Regions from separate parts of the Homo sapiens genome. Here regions 1 and 3 are each linked to region 2. The links come from fine-mapping of genetic effects on gene expression. A gene starts in region 2. Each other region holds a variant in brackets. All regions are shown on one strand. Distances are between the middles of the regions. Region 1 overlaps SRD5A3 (steroid 5 alpha-reductase 3). Region 2 holds the start of SRD5A3-AS1 (SRD5A3 antisense RNA 1). Region 3 overlaps PDCL2 (phosducin like 2).

Region 1 (10,113 bases), 25 kb after region 2:
GTCTTTTAGTGTTTACAAGTTTAGCCATTTAACTACTAGGTTATATTTTTATAAGTTCAAAACAGGCTGGGTACAGTGGCTCACACCTGTAATCCCAGCACTTTGCGGGGGCCAAGGCAGGAGGATCACTTGAGGCCAGGGGTTTGAGACCAGCCTGCCAACATAGCGAGAACCTGTCTCTACAAAAATGAAATAAGCAAAATATTAAAAATACAGTTTTAAATCTGACAGGCTTCAAGAGCAAGTCAACAGGATGAAAAGTTACAGTGTCTGGAAGTTCAAATCACTAAGTCCCTTATGCTAAATGCAGAGAGTTTACCTACAGGAAAAAGGATTTGTTAAGGGTAACGCCAGAATTATAATGCAGGAAAAGGGAGGCAGGTGGAAGGCTCACATTTCCTCAGTTCTACTCAGTATTTAATTATTTGTTTATTCATTAGTTACTTAAGGAGTGCCTCCTAAGCCTGGCCCTGCTGAAGGCACAAAGGATAAAGCAGGGAATAAGTCAGGCAAGATCCCAGTCCTTATAGAGCTTACATCCTAGTTTACAGATAGTCTTCTTTTCACTTTAAGAAGAACCCTGTGAAATCAGTATGTGTCAATAATTACTAATGAAGGCTGTGAGGCTCAGAGAAGCTCAATGAGCCAGATGCAGGCCCATCAAGACTCTGGAGCCCATGTTATTTCTATCACGCCCTTTGGTTGGCAAATGCCCCAATGTGTTTTCTCTCAATGAATTACTGAAACCAACTTTCCCCATATTGTCCTAAATGATCCCAGATGACCCTTGAAGGACAAGGAGGTGAAACAGAAAACAGCTTCAGAAAGGAGTGCTTAGAAAGCTATTTTTGTGGGCTCCTCTTCCTTGACTATCTACGCAGGAGGGAAGGCAGAAGTTGAGACGCAGCCAGTAGAGGAAACTCCGGGAGAGGCAGGTAACGCCAACAAACAAGAACACGCTAAAAGCTAGCAGTCACCAAGCGCTCTGCAAAGTTCCTTTAGGGGGAGAACCAGCACTGCCCACCAGGAATGACAGCCCCTTCCATGGTACTGGCTGGCAGAATGCCACCACAGACATGCCTGGGAGGAATAAGTTCAGAGGAATCAGAGAGATGCTAGCTAAGTGGCTGGAGCCAATCAATAATTCATGAATTGAGAAAGATCGTCAATAAATCCTTTAAAATCACTCCTCTAGTCAGAGGCCTTAGGTTGAGCTACAGCAACAGAGAGACGACTTTCACGGGGCACTCATACCAAAATCTAACCTGAGGAGGAAGCTCACTCACAGATTGTTGGAAATCGCTAGACCTCAGCCTGAGTTTACAAGGATGGACAGGGCAGCTGAAAACATGGAGCCCTGGGTTTAGAGACAATGGTCATTACAGACCTACGGGGTCTAGACTGACAGATACTAAGGCTGCAAGGTCAGGTTAACCTCAGCACTATAAACTCATTCCCATCACCCCAAGCGACTTGAATTCTTTATAATCATGCATTGTTTTTACAAAAATGGTAGTCATATGTGTTAGGTAATGTCCCCTCCTCCCCCCATAAAACAAAAAATCCATTTCATTTCCTTCTCGTAAACAAGGTCATGGTTTGGCTCCCCTCTTCCTGGCTAGTGAGAGCTTAGAGACTAAAACACAATTTTCACTACCACAGTACTCTTTGTCCTCTCCTCTCAGGCAGCGTCACTTGAAGAAAAGCTCTATTGTGATGGGAACAATCACAGGAACTAAGCGGCAACAAAATGGCTCCCCACCCCCTCTGCAAATCCCAACTCCATGCAAGCACTCTCCCTTCCCTCATTTTCTTTTCTTTTTTTTTGAGATGGAGTCTCGCTCTGTTGCCCAGGCTGGAGTGCAGTAGCGCGATCTCGGCTCACTGCAACCTCCACCTTCTGGTTTCAAGCAATTCTCCTGCCTCAGCCTCCCCAGTAGCTGGGACTACAGGCGTGTGCCACCACGCCTGGCTAATTTTTTTTTTTAATTTTTAGTAGAGACAGAGTTTCACCATGTTGGCCAGGCTGGTCTCGAACTCCTGGCCTCAAGTGATCCACCTGCCTCAGCCTCCCAAAGTGGTGGGATTACAGGTGTAAGCGACCACGCCCGGCCTTTTAAAATCGACTTGAGTCTCATCTCCTGAAATGCAAAATGCATTGGGCCTGTCTCTTACTTCTGCATGTCTCATAATGCTTAGCACAGCACAAGCCCCGAGAGCGCATCATACACCCTGGGGTGGGGAGCTCCTGGCAGGGCTGGATCCACTCACCATTCCTGCCATCCATTGGCACTTGGCTCAGCACAGTTAGGCCAACAAGGACATAATAGACAAGTCCAAAACAGTACTGCACGACGTGAATCATGACATTGGAGAAGACACTGACGTAGAGGCACTCGAAGAGTCTTCGTAAGCTGTGCAGCCACAGAAATACTAGCACTAAGAATGCAGACAGTGCCAGCTCCCCTCCTACAATTCAGAAGGCAACAGGGTCAGCATTTCTCTTCTGGGATTAATCCAAAGTTTTGTTTTTCTGTACTGTTAAGCAAAGTATTAAATCCCATCTAACATCTTTCTTTTTGGTAGTAAGGAAGAAATGGGCCAAATGAAGTCAAGGAATTTGACTTCACTCAAATTACACAGTTCACTGTGTTACACAGTTCACTGGGTTCACAAACACCCATCACTCAATTCTGCTTCATTGTGTGACAGCCTTCCAGGCTTCAGGGACATCACGGTCAGGAGGTCTGTGAAGAGGTCTGTGGGTTTCTGGTCCTGGCACTAACAGCCAGATGCAAACTGGAAGCGTTCCTGGTAGCCTCTGAGTGGCCCCAGCTGTGGGATCCCCAGTATCTCAGGCATCACAGAGGCAGAGAGGGGGACAGGAACAGAAACAGAGTTATGCATTTCTTTCCACATTAAAAAAAAGAAATTATACTTTTAGAGGCATGCTGAGCCCAAGATCTACTTCCTCACCTGTCTTTCACGACCTGCCCACCAAAAAATCTGAAGAAAAGCTGGCTTTAAAAAAACACACACTTAGTTTCTCTTTTTTTCTTTTTTGTTTTTTATTTTTTGGTTAATTTTATGTGTCAACTTCTTTATTTTTGAGACAGGGTCTTGCTCTGTCACCCAGGCTAGAGTGCAGTGGCACAGTCAGGCCTCACTGCAGCTTTGAACTCCTGAGCTCAAGTGATCCTCTGTCTCAGCTTCCTGAGTGGCTAGAACTATAGTCATGTGCCACCACACCTGACTAATTAAAAAAAAATTTTTTTTGTTGCCCAGGCTGGTCTCGAACTCCGGGCCTCAAGCCATCCTCCAGCCTCAGCCTCCCAAAGTGCTGGGATTTTAGGTGTGAGATACCACGCCCAGTCACTTAAAAAAGAAATGAGTCACGGCCGGGGGCGATGGCTCATGCCTGTAATCCTACCACTTTGGGAGTTGGAGGCGGGTGGATTGCCTGAGCTCAGGAGTTCGAGACCAGCCTGGGCAACATGGTGAAACCCTGTCTCTACTAAAAATACAAAAAATTAGCCAGGCATGGTGGTGTGCGCCTGTAGAACCAGCTACTTGGCAGGCTGAGGTAGTAGAACTGCTTGAACCTGGGAGGTGGAGGTTGCAGTGAGCCAAGATTGGGCCACTGCAATCAGCCTGGGAGATAGAGCAAGACTCTGTCTCCATTAAAAAAAAAAAAAAAAAAGTCTCACACACAAACACACACACACGCATGCACACCATAAAGATGCAACTTAATTAACTTTTACAAATTAAGCCAACCAATCCCACCCATGTAACAGCACCCAGATCCAGAAACAGAACACTTTAGGAAGCTGAGGTTGGAGGATCGCTTGAGACCAGGAGTTTGAGACCAGCCTGGGCAACACAGCAGGTACCCCATCTCTAAAAACATTAAAAAAAAAATTAGCTGGGCATAGTGGCGTGCACCTGTAGTCCCAACTACTCAAGAGGTGGAGGAGGGAGGACTGCTCGAGCCCAGGAGTTAAAGGCTGCAGTGAGCTATGATCATGCCACGGCACTCCAGCCTGTACAACAGAGTGAGACCCTCTCTCTTAAAAAAAGAAAAAGAAAGAAAAAAATGAAACAAACAAAAGAAACAGGCTGGATGCGGTGGCTCATGCCTGTAATCCCAGCACTTTGAGAGGCTGAGGCAGGCGGATCACAAGGTCAGGAGTTCAAGACCAGCCTGGCCAACAGAGTGAAACCCTGTCTCTACTAAAAATACAAAAATTAGCCGGGCATGGTGGCGCATGCCTGTAGTCCCAGCTACTCAGGAGGCTGAGGCAGGAGAATCGCTTGAACCCGGGAGGGGTAGGTTGTGGTGAGCTGAGATCAGGCCACTGCACTCCAGCCTGGGCAACAGAGCAAGGCTCCATCTCAAAAAAAAAAAAAAGAAGAAACAGAACACGAACAGCACCCCCTAGTGTAGGCACGACCCCTCCCCCAAACTTCCCATGGGGAACAACCCCTATCAGCACAGATTAGCTTTGACTGTTTTTGTATTTTAAATGAACTAAAACTTAGTTTTAACTCCTTAGGAACAAGTTAAAGCAAACAAATAGAATTCCTCATATCCTCACAACCAACCCTCCAAATACCAAAACACCCCAGTCAGTCTCACAGTAAACAAACGAAGAGATGAAGTTTTAACGAGTGGAGTGAGATCCGCTGATGTAGCCTACCCTTCCAAAGAGGATGTCCACGGGTTTGCTCTTTTTTTTTAGATGGAGTCTCACTCTGTGGCACAGGCTGGAGTGCAGTGGCATGATCTCAGCTTACTGCAACCTTTGCTTCCTGGGTTCAAGCCATTCTCCTGCCTCAGCCTCCTGAGTAAGTGGGATTACAGGCACGCGCCACCACGTCCCGCTAATTTTTTGTATTTTTAGTAGAGACGGGGGTTTCACCATGTTGGCCAGGCTGGTCTTGAACTCCTGACCTCAAGTGATCCACCTGCTTCAGCCTCCCAAAGTGCTGGGGTTATAGGTATGAGTCACTGCCCACTGTTCCCGGCAGGGTTTGCTCTTTTTTTTTTTTTTTTTTTTGAGACGGAGTCTTGCTCTGTCCTCTTAGGCTAGAGTGCAACGTTACAATCTTGGCTCACTGCAACCTCTGCCTCTTGGGTTCAAGCAATTCTCTCTCCTCAGCCTACCGAGTAGCTGGGGTTACAGGCATGTGCCAGCACACCCAGCTAAGTTTTGTATTTTTAGTAAAAACGGGATTTCACCATGTTGGCCAAGGTGGTCTTGAATTCTTGACCTCAAGTGATCTGCTCACCTCAGCCTCCTGAAGTGCTGGGATGAGAGGCATGAACCACCACACCCGGC[C/T]GGGGTTTGCTCTTCTGATTGTCATCTTTTGCAACCAGTTTATCTGGTTATACAGAAAAGGATTGTTTCTAGGTGGTTTGGCCACTGGAACAAAGGACAGAGATGAGACTAGAACAATTTGTTTCTAATTCTGCCCCTCACACTCTGCCTGACCTTAATTGAGGACATTTCATAGTTTTCACCTTCAATTCTTTATTTTAAAAACTGTTCTGGCCGGGCGCGGTGGCTCACACCTGTAATCCCAGCGCTTTGGGAGGCCAATGCGGGTGGATCACCTGAGGTCAGGAATTCGAGACCAGCCTGACCAACATGGAGAAACACCATCTCTCTACCAAAAATACAAAATTAGCTGGGCGTGGTGGCACATGGCTGTAATCCCAGCTACTTGGGAGGCTGAGGCAGGAGAATCGCTTGAACCTGGGAGGCAGAGGTTGCAGTGAGCCAAGATTGCACCATTGCACTCCAGCCCGGGCAATAAGAGCGAAACTCCATCTCAGAAAAAAAAAAAAAAACGTTCCATATTCTTCATCCTGATGCTGAGGATGGCAAACTTAAAGGCTATTTTGTAATCGTCTGTTCAACAACTGTTTAGTCAATTTTATTATACTACCAAAGCCTCACAGCATAACTTTTTTTCCATGTTTATCAAAAAGTAATTTTTATTTATTTTATTCATTTATTTATTTATTTTTTTGAGACAAAGTCTCCCTCTGTTGCCCAGGCGTGGAGTGCAGTAGCTCAATCTTAGCTCATGGCAACCTCCGCCTCCCAGGTTCAAGCGATTCTCCTGCCTCAGCCTCCCGAGTAGCTGGGATTACAAGCGCCTGCCACCACACCCAGCTATTTTTGTATTTTTAGTAGAGTTGGGGTTTCACCACATTGGCCAGGCTGGTCTTGAACTCCTGATCTCAAGTGATCTGCCTGCCTTGGCCTCCCAAAGTGCTGGGATTACAGGTATGAATTAAAAAGTAATTTTTTTTTTTTTTGAAACACAGTCTCGCTCTGTTGCCCAGGCTGGAGTGCAGTGGCCCGATCTCAGCTCACTGCAAGCTCCGCCTCTCGGGTTCATGCCATTCTCCTGCCTCAGCCTCCCGAGTAGCTGGGGCTACAGGTGCCCGCCACCATGCCCAGCTAACTTTTTTTTGTATTTTTAGTAGAGACAGGGTTTCACCGTGTTAGCCAGGATGGTCTCGATCTCCTGACCTTGTGATCTGCCCGCCTTGGCCTCCCAAAGTGCTGGGATTACAGGCGTGAGCCACCGCACCCGACAGAAAAAGTAATTTTTAAATCACATTTCTGGAGTTCTAAGTCATGAGTTTGGTTGGAACAGTATAAATGATAAATGTTTCCAGACAAACCTGACAGATCCTAAAAGCTTTCCCCCTTTTGTGTAAAGACTTCTTCATAAATTTATCAACAGTACTAAAAATACCAGAGGGAGGGCAGCCAGTTCTGCACACAACACAGCACTTGCTGGGAAGTCAGGAGCGCTAACTCTTGGCTCTGTCTCCTTCTCAGGGAAGGGCTTAGGGACATCCTTTTGGCCATCCGGCAATGAACCGTGCAAAGCTCTTTTTTGCCCTCATCCTCCACTTCCCAGGCCCTTCTGAGGAGGTGCCGAGAGAGGAGACAAAATGCCAAAAACTGCTCCCTTGCAGACAGGAACAACAGAAACGGGATGCAGCGTTGTCATAAGCCCAGGGAGTCCTTACCCTGGAACTGTGCCGCCCCGAGAATTCTGAGCAAACCATGAAGCCAGCTTGGAAAAGGTGCTCCCAGGAACAGAGATTGAGTAAGGCACCAAAGCAGGAAGCCATTCCACAGCACTGAGATGATATAAAAGTGGGAAAAATATCTGCAAAAGGAAAACAAGCGAGGCAATAATTAGGGTAGATCCACTTCAAGCTCTTATACGGGAAGATTATTTTTAGTTTCTCTGTCTTTCCCCACCCCTCCATTCCCAAAGTATACCTTTGCTTTTTAATAGAATCTGAATCCTATAGGTGTTCAGGTTCTTAAAATTTCCTTTCAAATAACGGGACCAGTTAACTTTCAGGAAAAAGAGGCCTCTCTGAGGTTAACAAGAACACAACCAACTGTGTTAAACTTAGAATAAAGTTTAGTTAGCAATCTCTCTGATTGCTGGGTAACAGAATTGGACTCAAGTTCCCAAAACGGAGGCTGCAGGCCCTTGCAAAGAGAACCTAGACTGTGCTAAAACAAGCTAAATCTGTGAAAGATTTTGATTTCTATATCCCAAACAATATTGCAGTAATAGCCACACAACTGTTACACATGATTTGCATAATCGCAGACACTTGGGGCTAGAGGAAGTAAAAGATCTTCAGGCATGACTCAGTGTTTTTCCAAATTGGGTTGACCTAAATTACTTTTATTATAACATGACTAATACTACAATCATAAAACTAGGTATTAACTCCTTATGGTTATAATTCTCAGACAACTACAGGGCCTATTTTGCAATCAACACATCTACAAACTAAATACAAATAGGACCACAAAACCAATGCAATTGAAATTAGCGATGTTAATTTAATGCAAAAGATGATGTTGATTTGCTGAAACAAAAAAAATCACCTAATATGGCACAAGGGCCTAGGGCCTAGCAGGTTCTTCTTCTTCTTTTTTTTTTTTTTTTTTTTTTGAGACAGGGTCTTGCTGTGTTGTCCAGGCTGGAGTGCAGTGTTGTGATCACCACTCACTGCAACATTGACCTCCCAGGCTCAAGTGATCCTCGCACCGCAGCTTTCCAAGTAGCTGGGACCACAGGCTTGTAGTAGTCCACCATGCCTGGCTAATTCTTAAACTTTTTATAGAGATGTGATCTCCCTATGCTGCCCAGGCTGGTCTCAAACTCCTGGGCTCAAGAGATCCCTCCCACCTTGGCTTCCCAAAGTGCTGAGATTACAGGTGTGAGCCACCATGTCCAGCCCCTCATAGGTTCTTTTGAGGTCTGTTTATGTATACTTTTCTATTTTTTTCTATTCAGTCTGAAACCTTTCTGACTCTATTGAGTGCCTGGCGGTCATCTGGCTTTCCCTGGTCTTCAATGCATCGTGCATATATTAAATCCCACTCCTTCTTTTCTTTTTCTCATTAGTCTGTGACAATAAAAGACAACCTAGAGCCAAAAGAGGATTAAACATAATCGCAGGGGCTCCTCCAGATGATCCAGAATGTGCTTGTAAGAGAATGCACAGCCCCTGAGATCATGCCTACAAACTCAGTCTGATAAACTCTGATCCAACCTGATCATTCCATGGCAACCCACTCCACTCTGCCAATTACTGTTAGCAAATTCTATCACTGGCCAGGCATGGTGATGCATGCCTGTAATCCCAGGGCTTTGGGAGGCCAAGGTGAGAGGATCCCTTGAGGCCAGGAGTTTGAGGTTATAGTGAGCTATGATTCTGCCTCTGCAACTCCAGCCTGGGCAATAGAGCAAGACCCTGTGTCTTAACAAATAAATAAATAAATAAAATTCTATCACTGGATTTGCCATCTCTGGCCACACAGAACAAGAATTTTAATTCCACACAACATCTCTTAAACTATTTGAAGAGAGCCATCCTGTGATTCCCAATTGGGATCTTCTCCAGGCTTCAAGAGCCTACTTTTCACAGAAGTTCATGCATCAAGGCCAATCGCCACCTGTGGCTACTGATCTTTGGTTATACCACAGGGTCTTCCTTAAGACACACTTCCCACAACTGACCCCAGGTTATGGTCTGAGCCTCGTGGAGCACAGTGGAAGGTCAAGAACATGCTGTTCTGCAGGCTCCCAGGAAAAGGCAGGAGGGATAGCTTCTGAAGGACAATTTCTGGACCAGCCACTTTACGTACTTAATTTTTTCACAAATATTTACTGAGCACTTCGAATGTGTTGGGCAATATTCTAGAAGCTGGGGACTCAGCAGGGAGTAAACAGACTAGGTCTCCGCCTTAATGGGAGTTTACCTTAGAGTGGGGAGTCAGACGGTCAACAACTAAACCTGCAGACATCTAGCATAATGCTGGGTCAGGGGACAGAGGGTGCAGAGGGGAGGCTGTTCTGGATGGATGGTCAAGGGTGGCTTCTCTGGAAGTAACATTTGGCTAGAATGAGTCATCCCTGTGGATTTCTAGGGGAAGAACTTTCTAGGCAGAAGAAATAACAACTGCAAAGGCAATGAGGTGGGTGTATACTAGGGGTGTTCAAGGAACATTAAAAGACATCTGTACATTGGCATGGCCAAGGGCGAGGGTAGAAGGTGAGGCAGGAGTGGGGAGAGGACATGAAGCCTTGTAAGGCCACTAGCTTTTATAATGGGGAGCCATTTGGGCAGATGAGTGACGTGAGGTAGTAATTTATGTTTTAAAAATCCCTCTAGGCTACCCAGGAGGCGGAGGTTGCAGTGAGCCAAGATCGCGCCATTGCACTCCAGCCTGGGCAACAGAGCGAGACTCCATCTCAAATAAATAAATAAATAAATAAATAAAAAATCCCTCTAGCCTGAGCAACATAATGAGGCCCCATCTCTACTAAAAAAGAAAAGAAAAGAAATAAAAAAATTAGCTGGGTGTGATGATGCATGCCTGTAGTTCCAGCTACTCGGGAGGCTCAGGCTGAGGCTGCAGTAAGTGGTGATCATGCCGCCACAGCACTCCAGCCTGGGTGACAAAGCGAGATTCTGTCTCAAAACAAACAAACAAACAAAACCCTAAAAATCTCTCTGGCTGATGGACAAGTTCTGGAGATAGGTGGTGGTGA
Region 2 (10,113 bases):
CCCCTAAGGGAAAAACATTATCTGCTGTTCTCTCCAGGGCTTGCCCCTAGCCCAGTGCAGCCTGCAACTCAACAGCTCTTGATTCTGGAGTTCAGTATTAGCCCAGTCCACCTGGCCACCAGACCTAAAACTATTCCTTCCAACCCGGCCTCCTGTCTGTGTCACTCTCTGTTTTCATCCTCAATGTTTCAGAAATAGGGAGAAGTGAGCTATTTCCTGAGCTCTGCTGGAGAACCCTCCTTCCCCATAATCAGCAAAGGGCCGATTAAAGTTTTTTCCTTAAATAGTCCACAGAGCAAAGGTTGGTTAAAGAAGCCAGGGCAGGGAGATATGAGGAAAGAGGAGAAGCAAAAACCAGAAACTTCACGCTAAGAGTCAACTGAAGATCATTCAAATTTAAAGCACTCAGGCTGGGCACGGTGGCTCACACCTGTAATCCCAGCACTTTGGGAGGCCGAGGCAGCTGGATCACCTGAGGTCAGCAGTTTGAGACCAGCCTGACCAATGTGGTGAAACCCTATCTCTACTGAACATACAAAAATTAGCTGGGTGTGGTGCCGTGTGCCTGTGGTCCCTGCTACTTGGGAGGCTGAGGCAGGAGATGGCTTGAACCCGGGAGGTGGAGGTTGCAGTGAACTGAGATCACACCACTGCACTCCAGCCTGGGCAACAGAGCAAGACTCTGTCTCAAAAAAAAAAAAAAAAATTAAAGCACTCAGCAAATGTAAGTGAATGACGAATAGCAATATGCAACTTGCTTGACCTTCTCAACTCTTTAAAGCTCATGAAACGAAGCACACTGCTACCCATCAGCTTGCTAAACCCCTTTAAATGATGGGGATCTGGACCCTTGTATGCGAACTCTGCTGGTGCAGGGGAAAGGGAGGGCAGCTGTTTCCCTACATTCTTGGGCTTTCCTAGGTTTCCACAAGCAGGCTGAAAATTCCAAAAAGAATGCTAAATACATGCTCCAGGTTCATTTATCCAACTCTTTCCTTGCATCACCTTCTGGATGTTTCACAGGCATTTCCAACAGAGCAAGGGCAAAACAGGTCTTTTGATGTCCCTCCAAAAACCTGTTCCTCCTTCAGGCTTTCCATCTTAGTAAATGGAACCAACATCCACCATATTAGATTACTCCATTAGATTCCCCATACCCCACATCCAATCCACCAGCAAATTTTGTCTCTAATTTTAAAATCTATCTGAATCTGTTCACCTCTATCTCCACTGTTACCACCTTGTACAAACCAGGTGTCATTTCTCACCTGGACAATTAAATGGGCTCCTAATTGGTCTCCCTGCCTCTGCCAATCTAGAATCTAACCAGCAGCCAGAATGAGCTTTCAAAATTAAAATAATTTCATTCCACTGCTTAAAAGTAATGACTTCTAAATGGGCAGAGAATAAAGATAAAACAATCTCTGAATGAAAGTTTAATGTGAGCTCGGCTGGGTGCGTTGGCTCACACCTGTAATCCCAGCACTTTGGGAGGCTGAGGCAGGTGGATAACCTGAGCTCAGGAGTTCGAGACCAGCCTGGCCAACATGGCAAAAACCCATCTCTACTAAAAATACAAAAATTAGCTGGGTGTGGTGGCAGGCGCCTGTAATCCCAGTTACTCGGGAGGCTGATGCAGGAGAATCGCTTGAACCCAGGAGGCAGAGGTTGCAGTGAGCCAAGATTACGCCATTGCATTCCAGCCTGGGTGTCAAGAGTGAAACTCTGTCTCAAAACAAAAAAAAAAAAAAGAAAAGAAAGTTTAATGTGAGCTACCCCTGCCTCCCTGTGTGACCTTGTCTCTTGGCTTTCTCCACCTCATGTGCCATGCCCAACCAAGAGCTTATTTCCACCTCAGACTCTTCATACTTCTGGTTTTCTCTTCTGAGAACACTCTTTTTTTTTTTTTTTTTTTTTTTTAGGTCTTATTCTGGTCATTTAGGTTAAAGTTCACTTCCTCAAGAGCAGCCTTCCCAGACCACCCATCTAAAATAGACTCTTCCATTCACCCTTGTCACTCTGTCTCATTGTTGGTTCTTTTTAAGTTTGGGGATTTTTGAAAGTTTTTTCATAGCACTTATCACTATCTGAAATTATCTTTTTTTTTTTTTTTTTTGAGACAGAGTCTTGCTCTGTTGCCCAGGCTGGAGTGCAGTGGTACGATCTCGGCTCACTGCAACCTCTTCCTCCTGGGTTCAAGCGATTCTCCTGCCTCAGCCTCCTGAGTAGCTGGGACTACAGGCATATGCCACCACGCCTGGCTAATTTTTGTATTTTTAATAGAGACAGGGTTTCGCCATGTTGGCCAGGCCAGTCTCAAACTCTTGACCTCAAGTGATCTGCCCATCTTGGCCTCCTGAAGTGCTGGGATAAAGGTGTGAGCCACCACACCTGGCCATCTTGATTATCTAATTGTTTACTTCTTTTTTTGTTTTGTTTTGTTTTTCAAGACAGTCTCACTCTGTAGCCCAGGCTGATTATCTAATTGTTTACTTCTTTTTTTGTTTTGTTTTGTTTTTCAAGACAGAGTCTCACTCTGTAGCCCAGGCTGGAGTGCAGTGTCGTGATCTCCACTCACTGCAACCTCTGCCTCCCAAGTCCCAGTTGAGCAGTTCTCCTCCCTCAGCCTCCCGAGTAGCTGGGATTACAGGCACGCACCACTGTGCCCAGCTAACTTTTGTATTTTTAGTAGAGACGGGGTTTCACCATGTTGGCCAGGCTGGTCTTGAACTCCTGGCCTCAAGTGATCCGCCCACCTCGGCCTCCCAAAGTGCTGGGATTACAGGCATGAGCCACTGTGCCCAGCCTGTTTTTTGTTTTTTGAGACAGGGTCGCATTCTGTCACCCAGGCTGGAGTGCAATGGTGCAATCTCAGCTTACTGCAACCTCTGCCTGCTGGGTTCAAGCAATTCTCATGCCTCAGCCTCCCGAGTAGCTGGGATTACAGGCATGTGCCATCATGCCAGCTCTTTTTTTTTTTTTTTTTTTTTTGTATTTTTAGTAAAGACAGGATTTCACCATACTGGCCAGGCTGGTCTTGAACTCCTGACCTCAAATGATCTGACCTCCTCAGCCTCCTAAAGTGCTGGGATTACAGGTGTGAGCCAGCATGCCCGGCCTTTGTTTACTTCTTATATTTATTATCTGTATTGGCAACTAAAACGTAAGTGTCATCAGGGCCAGAATCTTGTCTAAAGAGTTCCTGGCTGTAGAAGACACTCATACATGAATGAATAATTAGTTTAATGAAATTCTGACAACAAAAAGACAAAGGCAAACCTAGACACAGACATAGTCTGGCTCAAAAATACAGATTTCTGATCTGTCACAGCTTCATCTTTGAAAGTCAGCCTCATTCCATACCCACCCTTTCCTCCCAAAAGGCCTGAAAGTTTTGAAGTGGCTTCTGTGCCTTCTTTGCCCTTGGCCTGCCTCTGAGAGACAGAGTTCATCTGACTTTCCACTCACTTCCTAGTGACCTTGAGTTCATTTACAGCCAAAGACAATAATGGGTGTTTAACTCACCAAGACTCCTTCAACCCAGGGCACTCCACCTCCCCCAATTATTGCCAAGTCTGGTTTAGGTCTGACAGCAACTGAGGCTATACCCTCCATCCCCTCCATCCTCCCCCAGGTTAGGCGAAATCTTCTCTCCATTGTCAAGCAAGGTGTGAATTTTGATGAAGCTACTCAGGGCAGAGAGGTGGTTGGAAATTAGGTGGGAGTGATACTCTTTCATCAAATTAAGGCTCGGGTATTACCAAGAAGTAGGGTCAAAATTACGTCAGCCAGAGAAATATAAATCCATTAGACTAGAGGAGGATCTTTAAAATGAGAAAAAGTTGCAGCCATGGAGTAGAAGACCCTCTGATTCCCTCTTTCCAAGTGTTGATAGTAGAGCTTCACCGCCATGAAAAGTCTGTGGATGCTGAGACCTGTGCTCCCCTTCTCTCTGAGGCAGGCCTACAGAATTGGGCATGAAACAGCAAAGGATGGCCTCTGCTTCCACCACCATCAGAAATGTTATATTTTCACCAGTGCACCATAATGTAGCAGTCTCTCCATAATGTAGCAGGTGAGGTATCACCTGGAGTTCTTCGTCTCATGACCAAGAAAATTAAGGAGCGTGGATGCAAAGGATGAAGTTGCAGCGAAAGTTTAATAAGCAAAAGAAGAAAGCTCTCCACAGTGGAGAGGGGACCTGGAGGAGGGTTGCTGCTTTTACAGGTGACTGCAAAGGCTTTTATAAGAACCGGTGAGGGCTGGGCATCTCATTTGCATAAGGCATGAATTTCTGGTAGCTCCACCTCATCCTTCTAGTGTGCATGTGGGCCCTTAGCTTAAGTTTTATTCCATATTGCTTTTTTCCCCTTACTGCGCATGTGTCAGGGGATGGAATTTTCCACTGCAGAAGTATCTGGGCAAGTCATCTGGGTAGGCTTTCATATCTGTGTGGCTGTGGGAATGTCTTAGTCAAGGCCACCTGTGCAGATCCCCTTATCTGTGCCTGCAGCTTGATTTTTCAGGCTGTTCTTTTGTTTGAAAGAATTTAACCAAGGACCCACCCTAACTGATGCCTGAAAGGTTTCTTCCTTTCTCCTCTCTCAGTATCTTCCCTTGTGGACTACACCAGTGTCGAAATGTTCTTGCTAAAAATGATGCAGGGAGAAAGACAAAGTTACAAAGTTGGCATCCACAATTTTTCCATCTTGCCCCACTTCCCAATTAAAATGAAGGAAAAAAAATTGGTGAGGTCTCCATCCCTGTCTGAAGCAGGCATCCATTATCCTGCCCAGGTCAGTTGCTGCAATGGGAAGCATGACTTCATGTTTTGTCAGATGTACCAAATTTTCAAGAGAAAAGCCAGAGAGCTGAATATTTGTGTGAAATTTCCTGATTTTTAAAAGTTGGCAATTGTATCAAATTAGGATTATACTCCACTAAATATAACATAAAATCGAAAAGAACATGCAGCATAAATGAGAGAAATGTTTTCCTTCATTAGAGGCAGTTCAGTGGCTCCACAGAGATCAGGGACCCAGGTTCCTTCCAGCTTTCTGCTCTATCATTCCTAGGGGGTGACCTTTATCTTCATGGCCCAGTGTGACTGCAAGAGCTCTAGCATCCAAGTTCCCAGCAGAAGGATGGAGGACTGGCTGGAAAAACAAGGAGACACAGGGTATGCATCAGGTATGTTTCAAGGGAGCTGCCACAAACCACATCTGCTTACATCTTATTGGCTAGAACTTAGCTGCATGGTGACAGCTAATTGCAAGGGAAGCTGGGAAATGTAGTCTCTATTTCAGAGGCACTTACTATAGGGAATAAAGGGAGAAAGGCTCTTGGGGTCAGCAATTAATAGTCTGTGTCATAGTAACTATATCAGTCAGGGTTCTCCAGAGAAACAGAACCAGTAGGAGGCATACAACAAGTCTGAAATCTTAGAAAACACCAGCAGGCTGGAAACTCAAGCCAGATTTTTATGTTACAATCCTGGGGCAGAAGTCCTTCTCCAGGAAATCTCCGATTTTGCTCTTAAGGCTTTTAACTAATTAGATGAGGCCTACCCACATTATTGAAAGTAGACTCCTTTACTTAAAGTCAACTGGTTGTAGATATTAACTATATCTGCAAAATATCTTCACAGCCACATTGTTATTAGTGTTGTAACAAAAAACTGAGCCCCGTAGCCTAACCAAGTTGACACATATAATTAACCATTACACTAATTCACAATTTTAAAAACTGTGCATACAAAACAGTAGCTGTCTATGAGCACGGTATGACCTGCAGCCTGCCAGTTTGCAATCCTTTCTTTGCATGTCGGAGCAAGGGGCTTGGCCCTTTATAGACCTACGATGTAATAATACCCTAACCACATACCCACCATACGACTGGAATCACACATACACTGCCACAAGAGGTCTGCAGTGAAGGTCCCAAAGTCCCAGACAGTATGTAGAGAAATAGTCCTGTTTTTTGTTTGTTTTGCTTTTACCACTGTGGAATGCTATCTGATAACACACTTTTCTCACTCCTTTCTGACTCATAAAATTATTTTCACTGTAAAACCCAAACCTCAGTTGCTAGGTAGTGCCCCCACAGGAGGGGGCAGTGAGGGGAGAAGGCAGGGAGCTGGGGCTAAGAAAAAGCCTAGGGCTTTGTCAGCCTATAATCACCAACCATTCCACTCACCCAGTACCACTCAGACAGAGGAATGAGACTCTTCTATGCTCGCCCCAGACAGTTCTTATCTGGTGTTCCTCTTTCAAAGTTGTCATGCTGTAAAGTTGTGTTTTCACTGATTTGTAAGAGCGGTTTATATATTGTGAATATTTATTTTTTCTTTCTTACATGTATTGCAATTGGTTTTTCTAATTTTTAAAACATTGTTTATGATGTCTTACACTGTAATTCTGTACAGGCTTACAGCTTTTCTGAGTCTATTTGAATAATATAAGTACTAGAAATGTGGCTAAAATGGGCCCATTAAAAGCATTGGGCCAGGCACAGTGGCTCATGCCTGCAATCCCGGCACTTTGGGAGGCTGAGGTGGGCAGATTGCTTGAGCTCAGGAATTTGAGATCAGCCTGGGCAACATGGTGAAATTCCATCTCCACAAAATATTAAAAAAAAAATAGCTGAGTATGGTGGCATGTGCCTGTAGTCTCTGCTACTCGGGAGGCTGAGGCAGGAAGATCACCTAAGCCCAGGAGATAGAGGCTGCAGCGAGGTATAATTGCACCACTGCCCTCCAGCCTAGGTGACAGAGTGAAGAAAAAATAAAAATAAAAAGAAGGAGGAAAAAAAAGCATTGACACACTTTCATGCAGGCTGGAGGGCAGTGGCGTGATCACAGCTCACTCCCAGGGTCAAGTGATCCTCCTGCCTCAGCCTCCCGAGTAGCTGAGACTACACACGTGCACCACCATGCCCCGCTAATTTTTAAATTCCTTGTAGAGACACAGTCTCACCCTATTGCCCAGGCTGGTGTTGAACTCCTGGGTTCAAGTGATCTTCCTGCCTTCACCTCCCAAAGTGTTAGGATTACGGGTGTGAGCCACTTTGCCCAGCCGGCACACAAATTATATCACCTAGAAATCGATAATTTCACTAAAAGCCAGGAGATGAACTAAAATTATTTAGGGTAAATATGTGTCTTATGTTTCTTAATTCAGCAACAAATTAGTTTTATGCAACAATCATCATATGAAAATAAAAACAATTATAATTCAGTGGATCTTTTTTCACTTTATGGGAAGCAGATTTGGTTTATCTGGCTTCAGTGCTTTTCCCTGCTGTTTATTTTTCACAAGTAAGTCATCTTTATTGTCATTTTGTTTTTACTGCAAAGTTCATTGGAGTCATCATTTTTGAAGAAACCAAAAATAGATGAGGTGGGCCCATATTGTGGTGGCCATTTCTCTGATCTTTAGAAAAATAGTTCTCCATATTTGAAAACAAAGAATGCTCATAGAAGGACAATCTAACAGGCTTGCTATTTATAAGATACCTGAATTTGACTCCCATTTGAATGGATGTTTATCCCTGTCAAACTTATGCTCTGGACAGCAAAACACATAATTTTTAAATTGTTATTATTATTTTTGAAACAGAGTCCCCTCTTGTTGCCCAGGCTGGAGTGCAGCAGCATGATTACAGCTCACATCAGCCTCGACCTCCCGGGCTCAAGCTATCCTCCTACCTCAGCCTCCCAAGTAGCTGGGACTATAGGTACGTGCCACCATACCCAGCTAATTTTTTTCTGTTTTTTGTAGAGATGAGGGTCTCACTACATTGCCAAGGCTGGTCTTGAACTCCTGGATTCAAGCAATCCTCCTGCCTTGGCCTCCCCACATGCTGGGATTACAGCCATGAGCCACTGTGTCCAGCCAAAACTCCTAATTTTAATGAGAATGGCATCAATTGAAGGCATTGTCCCCAATTGCTTTGTGACATCAGTCCTGGATTAAATGCAAACAGATTTTTCCTTATGACAAATTCTGCACTATAGCCCACAGTATTATTTACTCTTTTTTTCTTTCTTTCTTTTTTTTTTTTTGAGACGGAGTCTCTCTCTGTCGCCCAGGGTAGAGTGCAGTGGTGCAATCCTGGCTCACTGCAACCTCTGCCTCCCAGGTTCAAGTGATTCTCCTGCCTCAGCTTCCCAAGTAGCTGGGACTACAGGCGTGTGCCACCACGACCAGGTAATTTTTGTATTTTTAGTAGAGACAGGGTTTCATCATATTGGTCAGGCTGGTCTTGAACTCCTGACCTCGTGATCCTCCTGCCTTGGCCTCCCAAAGTGCTGGGATTACAGGTGTGAGCCACTGCGCCTGGCTATATTTCTTTACTCTTAACATAGATTAAATGCCTATTACCTGATAGATTTTATATGGCACACATTAAGAACATGCATTTTCTTGCATTTCTTGCTCTTTTTCTACTCTCCTTAAGCATTCATAGGCAAGCATTGTCTACTATGATGGCTTATAACAAAAATCTGTAACACTCTTACTTGTGGTCATTGCTGGCTATGTAATTCGCTGAGCCTGGTGCCAAACGAAAATATGGGACCTCCTCTGTAAAAAACAGGAAAAAAGTACAGTTAAAGATACTAATGTAATGGGATAATAGTGATACTGGAGTAACTACATGAACTTAAACATTGCTAAACTAATAATTGTGATGTCATAATTTTATATAATACAGTAAACAATAATCATTCATTAATGTGATGTCCTATTATATTTTTCTGGCTCACTTTTCTGCAAATTCATCAAAATTTATTCTTTTCATTTCACTTTCATTTTCAATAGATATGAAATTTATGTCATACAATTTCTTTACCAATAGATAAGACTGAAAGCAACACCAGCCAGTCTTGGGAAATATAAAGTCACAAATAAATTTTGATAATTTTTCATTTCGTAAAGGATCTTTCTGCTGATGCAGCTGTTAAGAGTGTTTCATAAACTGTGACAACACTAAGGTAAATTTCTGATAAATTATTTTGAAATATAAATTTTAATACTTCTAGAGTTGTTGGTTCTTGTGGAATAATTTTTCTAAAGGGACTTAACTCCTTAGACAACTCAGTTTTCTGTAAAAGTCTGAATTTAATTTTAAGTATAAATTTACACAATGATATTTTAATGTTTCTGCAGACATAAGGAAATATTTCCTGAAACTTGTGGAGGTCTTACAAGAAACTGAAAGTGGCTTCATAATTTGTATATAATTCATAAGGCCTGTTTATGTATTCTGTCACTGACTCTTCAATTATAAGAAAAAAAACATGTTTAATTATCTTTCTGCCAAACAATTGGTTTGTACTTCCTAGGAAAATAGCATTCTTTTCTGTAGAATGTGACAATCTTTAAACTTAATTTCTGTTTCTAAGCCTGAGGTTATTTGCTTTGCCATGTTGTAGTAGTTTTCAAAACTAGACATTTTAGATCCTTTAAGAATTCTAATAACCCCCTGCTATGCTATGACAATATTCATGTATACACTTTTATTGTATACATGTTGTACTAATTTACTGAGAAGTTAGCAGAATGAGTTCCTGTCCCAGTACTCAGGATGGAGAGTTACTATTTGTGCAGATGATGCGGGGCTAAGCTCTGGCAAGGGACAGGCGAGCTGGTCTCCCACTGGTGGTCCTGGCAATGTCCATATGCAGAGCCCTTTCCTGTCTTTGGAGCCGCAGCCATTGCTGTCCTGACTGTTACTCCTGCTGCCCGCCACCATCACCACTGCAACTGGGCCCAGGTACTGGCTCAGCTGCACTCTGGACTGCCCTGAATCATGCACACATGCATGCGTTCCCCGCTGGGGTGTTTCCACTGCTCATGTGCATGCTTCATTGTCTCACTGGCTTCACTTACCAAACACAAATTCGAAGATAAAATCACTAAGAATTCCAAGACAGCAACAGCAGAGGATTAAACCAAGCATGTGCCCCTTCTGAGAGTGCAACTGCACAGCATATGGTCCTATAGATAGTCTATTAGGTGTCAGGATTTGGGCTTTGTGTAGAAGAGAGGATAAGGTGGTGAGGAAATGATGGGCACTGACAGATTTCCTCCATGATCTTAACTTAAAGCAATA
Region 3 (10,113 bases), 180 kb before region 2:
ATTTAAATGGGGATAATAATAGTACTGGCTTTGTAACATTTTTACAAGGATTAAGTTCATTAATGTTATGTATTTAAAATAGTGCCTGGTAACATAGCAAGCACTTGGTTAATGTTGGATATCATTATTCTCCTTAATGAAGTATTCAACTTGTACATGAGAATTTGTTGGCACAACATCTAGATAAACTCTCTATAGCTATGATTTAAACCTAGTCTTAAATACAAACAAATTTAAAAGTCAATAGCAAACTTCTTACACTTTCCAATAACCATGATAACACAAATTTGCATATAAAAAGAGAAATTGGTTTTATAAGATCATTCATGGTTATCCCATCATTTAAAGTGTTTGATATGGATAGGCATTATATTCATTGCCCTAAATTGTTATTACATATGAGAATGACCTTAAGAATATGACAGTATTCTTATGTAATTTAATTTCATGTTTTAATTAGAAAGAAGCGGTTACAGGAATGGAAAGCTCTTAAGAAAAAACAAAAATTTGGAGAATTAAGAGAAATTTCTGGAAATCAGTATGTGAATGAAGTCACAAATGCAGAAGAAGATGTGTGGGTTATAATTCATCTATACAGATCAAGGTAATTACCATAATATTTCAAAATGTTAATATACTACTATTTTAAAAGACATATTTTTGGTTTTAAGGTTTTACAAAGTATATAACAGTACTCAAGAAAAAGCAACTATATATTGCACACATATACATCCATAGAGGTTTTGATAGTCATTGGCTTCAGGGATTAAATTAGGTATTTTAAGATCTTTTCATTTCTAATTTCAGGAACTTGTCACACTTTTTAGAAAAATAAGCACTCTTTGGTAGTTTTGTTAAAAACTTTTTATTATAGAATATCTCAAAAACAGAGAAGTGGAAGGAATGAGAAAATGAACACTCTAAATATCGACCATACAGATTCAACAAGTAACCTTCTGCCATATTTATATAACTGTTTCTGTGTGTGTGTATATTTGCATTTGTAGAAAGTGAACTGAAAGTAAACTGAACATAGCATGATGATTTATTCCTGTGTACTTCAGCATGCACCTTCAAAACATAAAGGTGTTGGAAAGAAAAAAAAATTATATTTCCTCTACCCATTTTAGGTTTATTGGCTGGGGCCCTGCAAGTTGGACTGACAAAAGACAGGTTAACAAGAGAAAAACAAACAGAAGTCTATTTACAAGTGCATTACACATACACATAGGAGAGCTCAGTGATAAGTAACTCAAAGGGGTGGTTAGAACTTGGGCTTATATAGATTCTTAACAAAAGAACAGCAAATTTGTAGAGAATTGATAAGACAACAGAAAGGGTCTTTGAGCTTCTAGGAGTGACAAACTGTGGGATGGTAAATACATGGGTGAAACTATGTATTCAACTTGTTGAATCTATATGGTCGATATTTAGAGTGTTTAATTTAATCAAAATTAAAGGTTGTTTTAGCAAGGTTTGTTATATAGATTCCTCTGGTGCCTCACTGGAATGATAAGAATCTAGAGCTTTATCCAGTGATTAAGAGTGTCCTGCCCTTCCTGGTAGAGACAGGAGTGAGGATGTTACTGGGTGGAGAATATTTTTCTTGTGTCTGTTTCTTTTCAGTTGTCTTTAGCTCAAAATAATCCTTATGCCAGAGTGGCTTATTTTGGTGTGGTATACTATGAATCCCTTCAAGAACGTTCTTCTACATAACCACAATACCATTTTCTCACCTAACAAAATTAACAGTAATTCCTAATACCATCTAATACGTCGTCCTTACTCAGATTTTCCCGACTGACTTAAAAATATCTTTTATGAATACATATGTTTTGGACAAGGAGTCAATCAAGAATTATGCAGCACATTTAGATATATCAGCTCTCTGAAGTCTCTTCTAATAGAACAATTTCCCTGCACCCCTGCACTCCCCCATTCCTCCAAGACAGTTAATTTAAAAATACCTGGTTGTACTAAGTATAACCCACTGTCCCTAGGCCTCACCAGTCTTGCCTAGTAAATGGGGAAAGTAGACTTTTGAATGTTTCTCTCGTTCAGTCCTTCTAGCTTTAGGTCCCTACCCCTCTGCCTCAGGGCTATAAACCATTCTAGGAACAGAGGCCATGACAGCAACCTTCACTGTCCTTATCTCAATCTCTGAATAATAAATGTTTTTATCTTTAGGTCCTCAGGGAAATTATATACAGAGCAATTTATGCAAATTATAGCCCTGTATATAACCCTGTATAGCCTGTATGGCTATACTTCGCAGTTCCTGAGTCAAATTTTGACAGGACAACATGCCCCATAAAAGAAAATGCCCCATAAAAGTTATTTTATTATAACTAAAACTCTTGGTAGATTAATTTTTAAGTAGCTTTAAAGTCCTTAAAAGAATGTGTTGACCTAAAAGGAAGAGGCTGGGGCACAAAATATAATTTAAAGAGTTTACTTGAGCCAAAGTGAGGATAGCTGCCCAGAAGACTAAACCCAAGTACCTTTGGATATGATCTCCCTTTAGCCTTTGTTATGAGCAGGTTTGTGAAGACATAAAAGGAGGACAGGGAGTGGACTGATACAAAGTTGTTTGTCAGGAATTCTCTTTGGCTTAAGGAAATAACATTGATTAGTGACTGGCAATATATTGTTAAGCTATAAAAGTTACAGTGTCTGAAGTATTATTGGGTTGATTCATAGCTACTTGCAAGCAATAGCAAGCAGTTTCAAGAGATGAATACATAGGTCAAGGAGGGAGTAGGTTGTGATTCTCTCTTTTTATTTTTGATACAGGGTCTCACTGTGTTTCCCAAGCTGGAGTACAGTGACAATTGTAGCTCAATGCAGCTTTGAATGCTTGGGCTCAAGCAATGATCCTCCTGCCTCAGTCCTCCAAGTAGCTTGGACTACAGGTCTGCACCACCACATCTGGCCAGGTTTTAAAATTTTTTTGTAGAAATGGGGTATTGTTATGTCGCCCAGACCGGTCTCAAACTCCTGGCTTCAAGTGATCCTCCTGCCTCAGCCTCCCAGAGTATTGAGATTACAGGCGTGAACCACTGTGCCTGGCCTGCTGTCTCATTTTAATGACTCCGTGGGGGTAAACATTTAAAAGGACTTGCATTCTTCAGAGAAAAGTTATTTCCTGAAATCACACTTCCATATTACCTATACTATTTATTTGGTTAACCAGTTTGTAAATGCTGCTTGTAGATCTCACAAATAAGGATGAGAAACACGGACATTTATAAAACAAGGATCTGTTTGTGGTAAATATTATATACTGAAGTGGTTTACTGAATGTTTTTTCTGATCCTGTGTGGTTAGCAGAGTAGATATGGCTTCTAAGTAAAATTATCTAGCTTAATGGTTACTTCCAGATAAATTACTAGTTTTTAGAAATAATTTTTTAAAAATTCATAAAGAGGTTGAATGTGATTTAGTCTGCTTCAAATTGTTGTATGCTTTGATAGACTCAAAAAGAAGGATGTGGTTTCATAATACTTTAAGTAAACCTTCTCAGAAGGTTTTTCTGGGCCACTCTAAAGTAGTTACATATTAGTTTTCTGGACATTAAGAAAATACATTCCTGGGGCTGGGTGCGGTGGCTCATTGCCTGTAATCCCAGCACTTTGGGAGGCCGAGGCAGGCGGATCACTTGAGGTCAGGAGTTCAAGACCAGCCTGGCCAGCATGGTGAAACCCCATCTCTACTAAAAATACAAAAAAAAAATTAGCCAGGCTTGGTGGCGCATGCCTGTAGTCCCAGCAATGTGGGAGGCTAAAGCAGGGGAATGGCTTGAACCCGGGAGGCGGAGGTTCCAGTGAGCCAAGATCATTGCACTCCAGCCTGGGTGACAGAGCAAGACTCCAAATCAAAAAAAAAAAAAAAAGAGAAAAAGGAAAATACATTCCTGTGTTGGTATAAAACATATATTTTGAAAATTAATCTGTAGTAATCTAAATTTATAAAATATAACAGAAAATAATTGTGTTACAAATATTCTTTAGAAAACTTTAGTTTTTAACAGTGGATTTACTGGCCAG[G/A]CTCGGTGGCTCATGCCTGTAATCCCAGCATTTTGAGAGGCCGAGGCGGGCGGATCACCTGAGGTCGGGAGTTTGAGACCAGCCTGGCCAACATGGCAAAACCCTGTCTCTACTAAAAGTACAAAAAAATTAGCCGGGCATGGTGATGTGTCCCTATAATCCCAGTTACTTGGGAGGCTGAGGCAGGAGAATCGCTTGAACCTGGGAGGCAGCTCTGCAGTGAGCTGAGATCACATCACTGTACTCTAGCCTGGGCAACAGAGCAGGACTCCATCTCAAAAAAAAAAAAAAAAAAAAAAAAACAGAAAAATGGATTTACTTACAGCTTTTTAATATTGTAAAGTTGAAGGACAGCTGTTAATTTATGTTTTTGTAACCACACAATGGGTTCATTTTGCCTGCTGCCCATATAGAGTCAATTTATCAAGACAGGGGAATTGCAATAAAGAGTTTAATTCATGCAGAGCCAGTTGAACAGGAAACTAGAGTTTTATTATTACTCAAATCAGCCTCCCCCAAAATTTGGAGGCTGAGGTTTTTCAAGGACCACAGAATGGGTACTGCTGATTGGTTGGGAATGCAATCATAGGGATGTAGAAAATGATCCTTGATATGGTTTGGCTGTGTCCTCACTAAATCTCATCTTGAACTGTATTTCCCATAACCCCCATTTGTCGTGGGAGGGACATGGCGGGAGGTAATTTAATCATGGGGGCAGTTACCCTCATGCTGTTCTTGTGATAATGAGTGAGTTCTCATGAGATCTGACGGTTTTATAAGGGGCTTTTCCCCTTTTGCTCAGCACTTCTCATTGCTGCCACATGTGAAGAAGAATGTGTTTGCTTCCCCTTCTGCCATGATTGTAAGTTTCTTGAGGCCTCCCCAGCCATACTGAACTGTGAGTCAGTTAAACCTCTTTCCTTTATAATTACCCAGCCTTGGGTATGTCTTTATTAGCAGCATGAGAACGGACTAATACAGTCCTCATGTGTGCTAAGTCTGCTTCTGTATGGGGCCACAGTACTGCTTGGTGGGTCCAGGTAGAGGCATCAGTCATCAGAAATGCAAAAACCTTAAAAGATATATAAAAAAGACCAATCTTAGGTTCTACAATAGTGTTGTTACCTGCAGGAGTAATTGAGGAAGTTGCAAATCTTGTGACTTCCAGAATAATGGCTGGTAATTGTTTAAGTGTGTATCATAGCAGAGTTCAGGCTCCTCTCATCCTCCTAACCTAGTCTTCCCTTAGCTTTACAAAGGTGGTTTTAGTTTTGGGGAAAAGCTATTATCATTTAAACTGTAAACTGAAATTCTCCCAGAGTTAGCTTGGCCCAAGTCCAGGAATGATTCGGGGCAGTTTGGAGGTTAAAGGGAAGATGGGAGTTGGTTAGATCAAATCTCTTTCACTGTCATAATTCTCTCACTGTTAAAATTTTTACAAAGGTGGTTTCATTTTTAGCTACTTTCTATCAATTTTATAAAAGGGTGGTGTTTGTTTTTTGATTAGGCTCCTAAATTCTATAATTTCAATGGCTCTTTGCCATCAAATTGATAGGATTAGACCCACTTTTTATCGGAATGAAGGCTTAGCCTCCTTAAGGTGCCTTAGAGGGATCTAACTCAACCTGGGCCAGTAAGCCCAATGATTTAGCTTTAAGTCAGTCTTGTTTCTGGTTTTATTTAATCTTACCCTGTACCCCAATTCTATTTAATCTATGCCTGTACCCCAATTCTAATTTGGGGCTTTTATATTATTCTTATACCCAAGTGTATATTTTGAAGCTTGAATACCATAAATAGTCTCTTAACTTGTTTTGTGATGTTAGAGGTCTGCCTCATATTTTACAGCTCTTCTGGGGTTAAAATTCTGGCCCTGAGCCCCAACACCAAATTTGTTCCCCTACTACTTGCTGTCAGAACTGTCTTCGGGCAACCCTTTCTCCCTGCATCACAATCTGTTATGCAATATTCTCTTAATTCTATACTTTTCACTGCCACCACCAATACCTACCTGACTTCTGCCATTCACACTACTGACCCACCCCACAAATATCTGTTGTACCACTGACTGAGCTTTCATTCTGACAAAATTTCTAATGAAAATTATAAAATTTCTCTGAATTAGATATTAGTGGACTCATTTCACCTTGAAGGAAATCAAAACATTTTACCCTAAGATATACTTTCTTGACATATTTTGAGATGGGTGTTCAGAGAGCCAGCAAAACTGAAGTAACCCCGTAAAGCTGTCTTTTGTGGAGGGGATTTGCAACTGTAGAGAAAATCTGCATTCATGCAGTCAGGCCTTCTCTGAGGGCCTTCCCTTGTCTGATTTAGGACCAAAGTTAACTGAGAATCTGATGCCTTGAAAGGTCTAAAAGAAACATTTACCATCTATTCTCTTTGAGGGCTGCTACCTGTAAGGTTTCATCTACATAACAACACCACTTTTGCTATCCAGGCCTCCTCTTCTCTGCCTCCCATAGCCTGTCTTGTCACTGTAACCTGATTTACCCCAATAACATGTTTTTGGCCATGCCAGAGCCTCCATTCTTTCTGTAGCCTCAAGATGGCATATAAGCTTCTGTCCCCCATTGGAGGGTTTGGGTAATCACTTTGTGTTTCCTCTCTCATGTACATGTTAATAAACTTGTGTGCCTTTTCTCCAATTAATTTGCCTTTTGTTAGTTGATCTTTCAGTGAACCTTCCTTTGGAGGGCAAAGTTTTCCCTTGGCCCCTAAAACCTTGCATTTTTTAGTAGAGACAGGGTTTCACCATGTTGGCCAGGCTGGTCTCGAACTCCTGACCTCAAATGATCTGTCTATCTTGGCCTCCCAAAGTGCCGGGATTATAGGCTTGAGCCACTGCACCCGGCTCAAATTGAATATGTTTATGTAAAATGGAGAAAGAGTCTTTGGAGAAGGAAAGATGAGAAAACAGGAAAAGAGGGAAGCAGAATAACCAACAAAGATCCCAAGGGAGGTGGAAGGAATGTGGAATAAAGTAGAGGTGAAGGGATTCACTTGAAAGTTGGATAAACTGGGAGAAAAGGGACTAATCGATCAAGGAGTGTGATGAGAATTAAGTGATAAAGCAGGAAGAGCTGAGGTTGTGGTCACACTTCCAATCAATATTAAATTTCTGGTAAGGAATAGTTCTGGATAATGGGCCACCAGGATGTGGCATGGAGTGGGATTCCAAAGACTGGAAGAAGTTTGTTGGAGTCAGGAAAGACAGTTCTGGATATGGTAAACTCATTACATGGAAAGAAGCTCATGATGGCAGCAAGGGTTGGGATCCTTTTGTTTCAACTCAGAACTGCAAAGGATTTCCTAGAAGTGTCCTGTTTTTTTTTTTTTTTTCTACAAACTGGGTACCTGCTTGAACCAAACTGATGCTCAGTTGAATGTAGTTTCCCTAAGTTAAGCATCAGCTTGCCATGGTAGCTAGCTTCATTCCCGGGTTATAATGGTGCTTGCAATAAAAACCAGAGGACTCTACATACAGTTCTTCATTGCTAAAGGTAACAATAGAGGATGATAATAATGTGCTTTTATATTAATCTAAGATATATTTTTGCCATGGCGATATTTTACTTATTTCATTAGACTGAGATGAGTAGCCCATTTATTAAAGATTGTGTGTACTGTTTCTCTTTTTAGCATCCCAATGTGTTTGTTGGTTAACCAGCATCTTAGTCTTCTAGCAAGAAAGTTTCCAGAAACTAAATTTGTTAAAGCCATCGTGAATAGCTGTATTCAACACTACCATGACAATTGTTTACCAACAATTTTTGTGTATAAAAATGGTCAGATAGAAGCCAAATTCATTGGAATTATAGAATGTGGAGGGATAAATCTCAAGCTGGAAGGTAATGTTACAAATTTTGTTTATAAAAATGATAGGTGAAAACATCTGCAAACTAACAAGCATCCTGAAAGCTTACTTCCTTAGTACCAAGGTTTTTTCCTTGCTTCTAGTCTCTTTTTATATGCCTCCAGATTAATTTTCCTATAGTAATACTCTAATAACACCCCCTTGCTTAAAATCCTTAATAGTTCCCTGTCTCAAGTAAATTAAAAATTTAGAATCTTCTCCTTTAGAATCTCCACCCACCTCTCCAACTATATTTCTCAGTGCTTGCTAGTTTCTGTTCCTGTTAGGCTGGTCTTCAGCCACAACCCACAAATAGACATTACTCATTTGTGCCATCACACTTTTTTTACACATTCTCTGCTTGTACCTAATGTATTCTACCTTTCTCTATTATCCAAATCCAAAGTTTATTCCTTCATGAGTCTGTTCAATTTTTATTTACTGCATTATGTAATATTGGACCAATTCGTAATCTTTTTCTTCTCTACTGAATTTCTGTAGTGTATATTCTCAATGCATCTTTCTTTTCACTTATTAGCATGATATCTAATTTTGTTGATGAATCAATTCCCTTTGAATTTTATCTTCCTAAAAGGTGCATGGACCATGCCTCCTATTACTTTATTTTTCTTAGCACACAACACAAGACTTTCTATTTTTATCTTCTTTAATTGTTTTTACTTCCTAAGGTCATCTCTTTGATATATTCATTTTTTGGCACTGCTTTAACTCGATTTTACAAAACTAAAAATCATTTTCTCTCACCATTGTGTTAAAGTCATCATGAGTGGCTGTTTTCGGTTTTTGTTTTTTGTTTGTTTGTTTGTTTGTTTTTGAGACAGAACCTTGCTCTGTCACTCAGGCTAGAGTGCAGTGGCATGACCTTGGCTCACTGCAACCTCTGCCTCCCTGGTTCAAGCAATTCTCCCTGCCTCAGCCTCCCGAGTAGCTGGGATTACAGGTGGCCACCACCACACCTGGCTAATTTTTGTAATTTTTAGTAGAGATGGGGGTTCGCCCTGTTGGCCAGGCTGGTCTTGAACTCCTGATCTCAGGAGATCCGCCCGCCTCAGCCTCCAAAAGTGATGGGATTACGGACGTGAGCCTCTGCCCCTGGCTGGTTGTTTTCAATAGGTATTCTTTGACTCTGTCAGTCCCCCAAAGCTGTTTTTGCCCTTACCGAGACCTCTGATACTTTGTTTCAGAATTTTCCCATTTTTCTTTTAATCTTCTAAGGCCTTTCCTTGTTTCACCACCTTGTTTTTTGTAGCTTGGACCTTTTCTTTTTAATTAAAAAAATTAACAACATAAGAGTACATAAAAGAATACATAGAATAATAATATAGTAAGCATTCATGAAATCATTATTGTCTTCTCTGTTTGGGATGCTATAATAAAAATACTGTAAACTGGGTGGCTTATAAACAAGAAACTTTATATTAATGTCTCACAGTTCTGGAGGCTGGGAAGTCCCAGATCAAGGCGCCAGCAGATTTGGTGTTTTCTGAGGGCCTGTTCTTCATAGATGGTGACCTCTTCATTGACCTTACGTGGTGGAAGGGGCAAACAAGCTCCTTTTGGCCTCTCTGTTCACTCTTTCATTGATGAGTTCTCTGCCCTCATGGTCTAACCACTCCCAAAGTCCCCACCTCTTAATACCATCACCTTGGGCATTAGGATTTCAACATATGAATTTTGGGGAGACATAAACATTCAAGACCATAGTAATTACCAAAAGTAACAAATGTGAACATTTGTTTATGCTTGCTTCAGCTATTTTTTTGAGATAGCATCTCACTCTGTCACCCAGGCTGGAGTGCAGTGGCACAATTATGGCTCACTTGCAACCTTGACTTCTCAGGCTCAAGTAATCCTCCCACTTTAGCCTCCTGAGTAGCTGGGACTACAGGTGCCTGCCATCACACCTAACTATTTTTTAAGAAAAATTTTATAGTAGAGATGGGGTCTCACTTTATTGCCCAGGCTGGTCTCAAACTCCTAGGCTTAAGTGATCCTCCCGCATTTGACTCCCAAAGTGCTGGGATTACAAGCATGAGCCACCAAGCCTGGCCTGTTTGCTTATCTTTTAAAAACACATTGCAGATAAAGTTGAAGTTACCTGTATTTCCATACTTAGTCCTGTTCCCCTCCCTGCTTCCTTAGGGGCAAAAACTATCACGAATTTAGTGT

What was found. PIP is the estimated chance that this variant, and not a neighbour inherited with it, causes the effect.
Region 1: its variant is the best candidate, but not a certain one, in a credible set for the expression of SRD5A3-AS1 in esophagus muscle (GTEx, PIP 0.84).
Region 3: its variant is the best candidate, but not a certain one, in a credible set for the expression of SRD5A3-AS1 in spinal cord (GTEx, PIP 0.60).

What each region holds. Positions count from the first base shown.
Region 1 is chr4:55,356,430-55,366,542 of GRCh38, reverse strand. It overlaps SRD5A3 (steroid 5 alpha-reductase 3), which reads right to left. Exons shown (of 5, transcript NM_024592.5): 2 at 7,055-7,197; 3 at 2,272-2,469. Among named protein-coding and RNA genes, the nearest start is that of SRD5A3, 15 kb to the right of the region's middle. RefSeq lists enhancers at 591-1,278, 1,279-1,967. The variant C/T (reference allele first, on the strand shown) is at 5,343.
Region 2 is chr4:55,381,386-55,391,498 of GRCh38, reverse strand. It overlaps SRD5A3-AS1 (SRD5A3 antisense RNA 1), which reads left to right and starts at 5,919. Exons shown (of 4, transcript NR_037969.1): 1 at 5,919-5,954. LINC02928 (long intergenic non-protein coding RNA 2928) reads right to left here. Exons shown (of 3, transcript XR_941060.4): 2 at 8,519-8,582; 3 at 3,227-5,156.
Region 3 is chr4:55,560,209-55,570,321 of GRCh38, reverse strand. PDCL2 (phosducin like 2) reads left to right here. Exons shown (of 6, transcript NM_152401.3): 4 at 461-604; 5 at 7,710-7,918. Among named protein-coding and RNA genes, the nearest start is that of CLOCK, 18 kb to the right of the region's middle. The variant G/A (reference allele first, on the strand shown) is at 4,047.